2 linked regions of the Homo sapiens genome follow. The protein of the gene in region 2 interacts with the protein of the main gene of each other region in a pairwise test. Each region holds a gene or a part of one and is shown on either strand. Other genes may lie near its edges. The genes, in order: CYB561A3 and AGPAT5.

Evidence for each region.
Region 1: the proteins of AGPAT5 (region 2) and CYB561A3 interact in binary tests that used the Homo sapiens proteins (3 or more experiments, as listed by UniProt).

What each region holds. Positions count from the first base shown.
Region 1 is NC_000011.10:61,360,093-61,364,007, reverse strand, and holds the start of CYB561A3 (lysosomal membrane ascorbate-dependent ferrireductase CYB561A3), read left to right. Parts: upstream 1-2,125; 5' UTR 2,126-2,275; intron 2,276-2,665; exon of another isoform or gene 2,666-3,915. UniProt on the Homo sapiens protein: Transmembrane reductase that uses ascorbate as an electron donor in the cytoplasm and transfers electrons across membranes to reduce iron cations Fe(3+) into Fe(2+) in the lumen of the late endosome and lysosome.
Region 2 is NC_000008.11:6,746,639-6,750,553, reverse strand, and holds part of AGPAT5 (1-acyl-sn-glycerol-3-phosphate acyltransferase epsilon), read right to left. Parts: intron 2,885-3,915; coding exon 2,726-2,884; intron 1-2,725. UniProt on the Homo sapiens protein: Converts 1-acyl-sn-glycerol-3-phosphate (lysophosphatidic acid or LPA) into 1,2-diacyl-sn-glycerol-3-phosphate (phosphatidic acid or PA) by incorporating an acyl moiety at the sn-2 position of the glycerol backbone.

The sequences.
Region 1 (3,915 bases), on a different chromosome or scaffold from region 2:
GACTGCCTGGTCATGTAGTAGCGGTGGTAACAAAAATGGCAGCAAATCCTTATACATTGCTTACAATGTGCCAGGGAGTGTTCTACAAGCACTAACATTATTTAAACCTCACAAGGTAGATGACATAATACATTATTACCTTCCCCATTTTACAGATGAGAAATTTGAGGCCAAGAGAGGTAAAATAATTTGTCCAAGGTCACGTCGTTAGTAAGTGGCAGAGCTAGTATTCAGATGCAGGCTGCACGGGTCCACAGTCTGTGCTCTTAACTACTGGACTAAGCTGTCTCTTACATAATTGATAGACTAGTATTTAACTAGGCAGGAAAAATGCCAGCAAAGAAGTGTGAAGTGCCCTAGGCAGAAAAAGCAGAGAGGAAACAGGGGTCTCCTGGAAAGCTTTATCTTTAGGGTTATGGTTGCAACACAGTGGCAGTTGTTTCTTTTCATCTATTCCAAGACCCACAAGTTGCTCTGGGGGTGTCCTATGACCCGCTGCTGTGCCAAATCTATAAAGAAATTTCAAAATGCTCTGGAGTGTTAGCGATTAAATTAGCATCGGTAAAATGTTTTGCAATTTATAAGCTCTTTTCATATTTCTAACCTTACGTAATCCTACAACCATCTTGAGAAGTAGCCATTACAATGTATATTATCCCCATTTTACACAGAGGCTCCGGAAGGTTAAGGCACCTCCTCCACCTCAGCTGGTGAAGTCCCACCTTATTGGACATATGTTCGCGGTTTCCTCATTCATTAAATTTTAGAGAGAGAGAGAGTGTCTCGCTCTGTCGCCAGGCTGGAGTGCAGTGGCATGATCTTGGCTCACTGCAACCTCCGCCTCTCGGGTTCAAGCGATTCTCCTGCCTCAGCCTCCCAAGTAGCTGGGACTACAGGTGCGTGCCACCACGCCTGGCTAATTTTTTGTATTTTTAGTAGAGACGGGGTTTCACCATGTTAGCCAGGATGGTCTCGATCTCCTGACCTCGTGATCCTCCCGCCTCGGCCTCCCAAAGTGCTGGGATTACAGGCGTGAGCCACTGCGCCCGGCCGCATTAAATAACACTGATAGCTACTACCTAGGTACTCACACCACGATAAACTTGTCAACCAAGATCGTTTCCTTTAATCCTCCCTACAAGTCTGCAAGGTGGGAATTATTCCTATTCTACAGGAAAGGACACAGAAGTCAGAGCTCAAGGCATTCCTCCAGGTCTCAAGTCAGCAGAACCCGGCTTCATAACTGTGACGCCAAACCCGTGCTCTTAACCACTACTCATAGGCCACCATCCAGGGCTGTTTTGAGGATCCGTTATGCAGAAACGCCCATGCCTGTCTCTACGTACGACGATCCCCTCCAGTTTAGGGCAGTGGAGACTCACAAGCTCATGAAGCTCTTTAATTCGTCCACCGCTACCTGCCGCCTTCCCTTTGTACCTAGGGCAGTATTCCTCACGCTTCCCAATCCACTTAAAAACGAGGCTTCCTTGGCAAACAACAACAAAGCATAAAACCCAAGCCCAAAACAACAGCACCAAAAATTCTGACTTCTGGTCACTTAACCCACTCCTCGTCAATCACTCTCACCTCCAAACTCCAACGTCGGTTGTCATGCGGACATCGTCCCGGCTTCCGGAAGCCGGCTTTAAATTCCGGAAGTAAATGGAGGAGGCGGGCCCCGTCTGCGCCGTGCGGCCTGCTAGTCCCCGGCTTTCTCTTCCCGCTCTATGGCCAGTCTGGCCGCCATGTTGGAGCTTTCGCTGTTCGGGGCCCGGCCTGCTCCGGGCCCTCCCAGCGTCGCCGCTAGCTGACTTAGGGCTCCCGCCCACACTGCGCACGGCCTTGCTGAGGGCCGGCTCGTAGTGGGAGGCTTCGCGTTCACCTGAACATTTCCGCCTCCTCTGGATGGGGGATGAGAGGCGGGGCTGATGCATCGCAGCAGTCCTGGACCCTGACTTCGGACTTGGAGAAGAAACGCCGAGGAGGAACGGGAGTTAGGGGGTTAGCAGCTTGGCGCGCTGGGAGCCGGCCACCCCTGGTCTCCGGACTTCACTTCCCAGGAGGCCTCGCGCGCGACTGGAAGTGCTGCGAGCCTATAAGAAGGCGAGGCGGCACCCGCCGCTCTGCTCTGGGGCGGCATTGCCAGCCGGCTGTAGGCATTCAGGGCAGTGTCTTCTGCATCTCCTAGGAACCTCGGGAGCGGCAGCTCCGGCGCCTGGTAGCGAGAGGCGGGTTCCGGAGATCCCGGCCTCACTTCGTCCCACTGTGGTTAGGGGTGAGAAGGATCCCGGGGCTGGGAGTTCAGGGACCTGGGTTCGAATGCTGGTTCCGCTGCTATCTCGCTTCGCACTGTCGCGATCCCCTTGCTCGGCCTCAATTTTCTCTTTTAGAAAGTGGGCACCTTTCTCCGCGCTCTTCCTTCCAACGCGGTGGTTATAAAGGCACGAAAGCTCTTCAGAGGACGCAGAAAGCACCTGGAGCTCCTCACCCCAATTTTCACCCATTGTTAGCTGGCACGAGCACCCAGCAGAGGAGTCAGGGATCACCCCTCGGGTGCCTGGAACGGTTCTTTGGACACCTGAGCCGGACCTAGGCACAGCCTGAAGTCGGGGTCTATAATTATTCCGGTGCTAAGGGGTAACTTGTTCACCTACCTCCTTGGCAGGAATATTGAGCCCTTCACTCCTCATGTTCCGACTTTAACAGAAGCTACCTTTGAGAATAAGGAATCCTCAGAGCTGAGAGGGAGTGGACCCGAATTCCTGTACCAGCTCGGCCACTTACCTTGGCTAAGTCATTTTCTTGTTTTGGGCCCCAGTGTCACAGTGTTTTTGATTTGTAAGATGAGGGTTTAGGGCTTGTATCCTAAATCTGGTCCTCAAGATTCTTGAAGTCCCCCAGTCCATCGGGGAGGGAGAGCAACAAACTGATTTTCTACCCCTTCATTTATTTGTAGTTCTAAATTATAAAAGTAACACTGCAAGAGTTTGGAGTAGAGCCTTTTTCTTTTTCTTTCTTTTTTTTTTTTCTGAGACAGAGTCTCACTCTGTCGCCCAGGCTGGAATGCAGTGGCACGATCTCGGCTCACTGCAACCTCCGCCTCCCGGGTTCAAGCGATTCCCCTGCCTCAGCCTCCCAAGTAGCTGGGATTACAGGCGCCCGCTACCGCGCCCGGCTAATTTTTGTATTTTTAGTAGAGACGGGGTTTCTCCATGTTGGTCAGGCTGGTCTCGAACTCCTGACCTCATGTGATCCGCCCGCCTCGGCTTCCCAAAGTGCTGGGATTACAGGCGTGAGCTACCGCGCCCAGCCTGCGTAGAGCCTTTTTCTAAGACTAAGGGCTGGATGGGAACTAGCATTTCTTACCCCTGGATGTGACCTGTTTTAGCTCAGCCGGGAGAATCCTTTTTCGCAAGAAGTTAATAATATCTTGTGACGTGAAAATTATGTGAAACTCAGACTTCAGTGTCCATAAATAAATATTACTGGAACACAGCCGTGGTGCTCATTTGTTAAGATGTTTATGTGGCTGCTCTTGCATGGGCAGAGTTGATGACATAGTTGTGACAGACCATGTGCTCTACAAAGCCTAGAATATTTACTACCTGGACCTTTACAGAAGAGCTTGCTGACTGCTCCCTTAGAATGGGGCTCTGCAAAGTGAGCACACCCTGGGATCACAGCCCAGCCTGCCCTTAGAACAAATGAGAGGATATTTTCAAGCATTTGCATTGCAGTTTTCACGGTTTTTTTGTTTTGTTTTGTTTTTGAGACAGAGTCTAGCTCTGTCGCCCAGGCTAGAGTGCAGTGGTGCGATCTCGGCTCACTTCAGCCTTCTCCTGGGCTCAAGCCATCCTCCCACCTCAGCCTCCTGAGTAGCTGAGACTACAGGTGGATGCCATCACGCCCAGCTAA
Region 2 (3,915 bases):
TGTAAATAATTTCCCAGTTTGTCTTTCAGTCTTGATTTTACTCTGGTGTATTTTTCCTTTAATTCAGAAATACTTTATCCTTGACTGAAGTGATAAGATTTTATTTTCTTTATGGTATCTGGGTAAGTCAGAAAGGTCAATCTTTCAAAAGGAGACAATTTGTAATGAATACACATAGGCAGTGACCACCCCAAAGCCACAGTCAGCTCACATGTAGCAGAGGATAAGCAGGGCAGTGGGAGGTTGGAACCCAGGCAATGCAACTCACAGAAGGTTTTGGCTTCCTCAAGGCACTTATGATGCGGCTGGGAAGAGAGAAAGGCAGAGCCCTGTGCTAAGTGCCAGCACTGTAACACACGCCATCAGTGCCACAGCAGTACTGCAAGAGCAGGGGCAGGAGAAGGCACAGTGCTATGCTGGGAAAGGTGCCGCCTGTCACTGTGGGAGAACAGTAGCCTTGGATGAGGGCAACAAAAGAGAGGGTGGTTTCCTGTGGAAAGCAGGATTGGCCACACAAAGCCTTCAACTACTGAATATGCATGGGGTGCAGGAGGACTCAGTCAGCCAGCTTCACCACGGCCGAGGCTTCACGGCACAGCACAGGAGGAAGCGAAGGCAAGGCAGAGATCACGGCTGGAACGCATTCCTCCGATGGCAGGCAACAGAGGCTGGCCTTACCCATGAGCTCTGCTGAACCAAGGGGTTCTTAGACAGGAGGGGACATGATAAAAGTAGCAGCATTTAAACAAGGTTATTATGGGGAGTCTATCTGTTTTTCATTGGTTATAAACACTTGTTTAATCTTAAACTATGTTTAATAAACCAACGACAATCTTGATGAACTGTCTGTTTTCAAATGCAAAAATAGGTAAGTAACTCCTTCGATAGTTTAAAAGAGAAAAATATTAATATGCCACTTTTCTGTAAGAAGGGAGGGATGGTAGAATAAGAAGATATACTTAAATTTGCACATACAACGCACAACAAATTAAGAAAACTGGTTATCGCTAGGAAGGAGAAGGGAAGGCCAGGTAGCAGGGTGGAAAGCAAGGAAGACGTTTCACTGTGCATTTCGTACAGTTTTAATTTTTAAACTGATGCATTACATATTCTAAACATTTACATCTAAAATGAAAAACACCTTAGTTTTCTACTTTACAATTACTCTGTGTTATATACAATTATGAGAACAATCATCTTTCAGATATAAATATGTTACATTTTTTTTTCCTTCGACCATAACCAATTTTTATACTAGCTAGCCCCTGGGCCTCACTCCTCCAGCCTCCCTCCCTAACTTTCTGCAGTAGACAGCTGCTCTCTCTTTCAGTCAAAGAGCTTTTCTTTTAAAACCTGAGTGACCCTCATCTTATCATTATTTAACAGACTAATCATTTGACAACTATAATCTCACTGAACTTTGGAAAAATCCCTAACATCCAAAGATGACACACAGACAGTGTTAGATAATGTAACGGTGCACAGTACTACGTCTAGAAGGCCTACGTGTAAGGTTGGGCAGAATAATTTCTATCCTTGCTCACTTCTGAATGCTTTAATAATGTCTACTTTTATAAATGTTTTGTTGTAGTTAAAAATATTACTCTATAAAATTTCCAAGGCACATCAACTTCAGACGAATGCTTCAGGTGAGGGTTTCCATGTAAAACGTGCTGGAGGCTCATATTTTGAACATCTGCCCTCAGTAGATCCTACTGATACAAGCACACTGACATACATAGTGGCTCAACCCCAAACAGCTGATGAGGTAAAAACACAAAGCTCATTTGGGAGGCCGAGGTGCGTGGATCACCTGAGGTAAGGAGTTTGAGACCAGCCTGGCCAACAAGGTGAAATCGCATATCTACTAAAAATACAAATATTAGTCATGCATGGTGGCACACGCATGTAGTTCCAGCTACTCAGGAGGCTGAGGCAGGAGAATCGTGTGAACGTGGGAGGCGGAGGTTGCAGTGAGCCAAGATTGCGCCACTGCACTCCAGCCTGGGCGACAGAGCGAAACTCTTGTCTCAAAACAAAAAACGAAAAACAAAAAAACCCCATGAAGCCTAGTGTTCTCTCTCAACCCCAGCTCAAACAGATATTTTGAAAAGGAAACAGAAACTCCACACACTTCCCTGTTTGCCTATTTCCATGTTTACATTTCTCTAACAGCTAACACTATGTTTGGTTAGTTTAACTAAGTTATCCTGCTCACTTAAAATTCTATTTTTTTCTGGTTATATCTGACAATAGCTCAAAGGTTCTTAAAACCTAACATGTTTGGGGAAAAAAAAAGGTCACACTTAACTGCATTTCTTCTTGTCACAATGACACCCAAATTTAATAAATATTTTACGAAAAATACAGCAAAAGGGCAGCACTGACTAATAACGTGCACTCAGTACTGCCGGGCGTGCTCCTTCTTCACGTCTTCCTCCCTTTTACAGAGCTTTCCTTTTAAGTGTGAACTTTGAGTAGAAAGAGGCTGGATTAATGATAATTGGTGAGTCCACAGGACTCACACGACAGCCAAGAAATACCACACTTTGCAGGACTAATGAAATCTCCACTGTTACATCTTAATAACATCTTGAAAAATATACCGGGTAAATGTAATGAAGGAAAAAAGTACACTTAACCTACTTTGTAAAACTGAATTCTACATAAACATGTGCACTGTATATACCGTGTACAGGCATTTCAGGTGCGTGAACACACTTACCCGTCATGGTCGGTGACTCTCTTCGCTGCCCTCCATCGTCTTTCCCTTCATAAACCACCGTAACATCATAAATTGCATCTAAATAATTCTTCATGCAATCAAAAGCAACGTGAGTTGCCTTTATTCGTGGTGTTAGCACATGTTTTAATACTGCAAGGCCTAGAAGTCAATTCAGTGCCGTCATTAATTAGTTACAAAACACCTCCACAATATACTGTTTAACATCTAAATTATTTTTAAATTCCCTCAAACACACACAACAGAATCTATTAATTCCACAACCTCATATATTTAGGGCTCTAAGTTTAGAAAGCACTCTCACTTGCCTTTTTCTGTTTAAATCAATATTCATTTGCTATATATTGATCAAATATCTACATGTACAAGTCACCGTGTTGGAAGTTTATGGCCTAGCGGAAACGCTTCAATCTAGTAGACCCCGGCAAGGGTAAATATTAGTGCCCTCGCTTCTGGCCACTGAACAAAGGTGATAGCATCTTGCCCATGGTGACTCAAGATTTCCTAGAAATACAGTCACACAGCACATGGCCTCCTGTTTCTGGCTTCTTTCGCTCAGCATGGATCTGAGGTTCATCTGTGTGGCTGCAGGACTCAGTGCTTCATTCCTTTTTATGGCTGAATAGTTAGTATTCCACTGTGTGAACAGATCACATTTTGTTTACCTATTAATTGCTTCATGGACATTTGGGTTGCATCCATACTTTGGCTATTATGAATAATGCTGCTATGAACATTCATAGGAATTGCATATGAAGGCTGCAGGTGAACAAGCTTTTGTATGAACATACGATTTCAATCCTCTTGGGTATATCTGACATATTTTTAAAAGGTTCTTTAGCTGGGGGACTACTGCAATTATCCAGAACAAATCCCATTCATTAGGTTCCTACTAGGGTTAAGGATTTGTTCTTCTCTCCTTCCTATTACCTCCCTTTTCCTTGATTAAAATATTTACTGACAATTTAACAGAAAACAGTAGCTCTCAATAAGTGACATGAAAATAGACTATAAAAAACTAGTCTAGATTTTCTACTGGCCTCTCTGGAGGGAAAGTAGCTGAGTAAGGAAGAACAGCTATTACATGGTGGGACTGTCCCACACAAGAGGTTTTAAAATGCAGGGTGGTGTGGGAAAGACAAAGATTCCCACAAGCACGTATCTGACTTTAG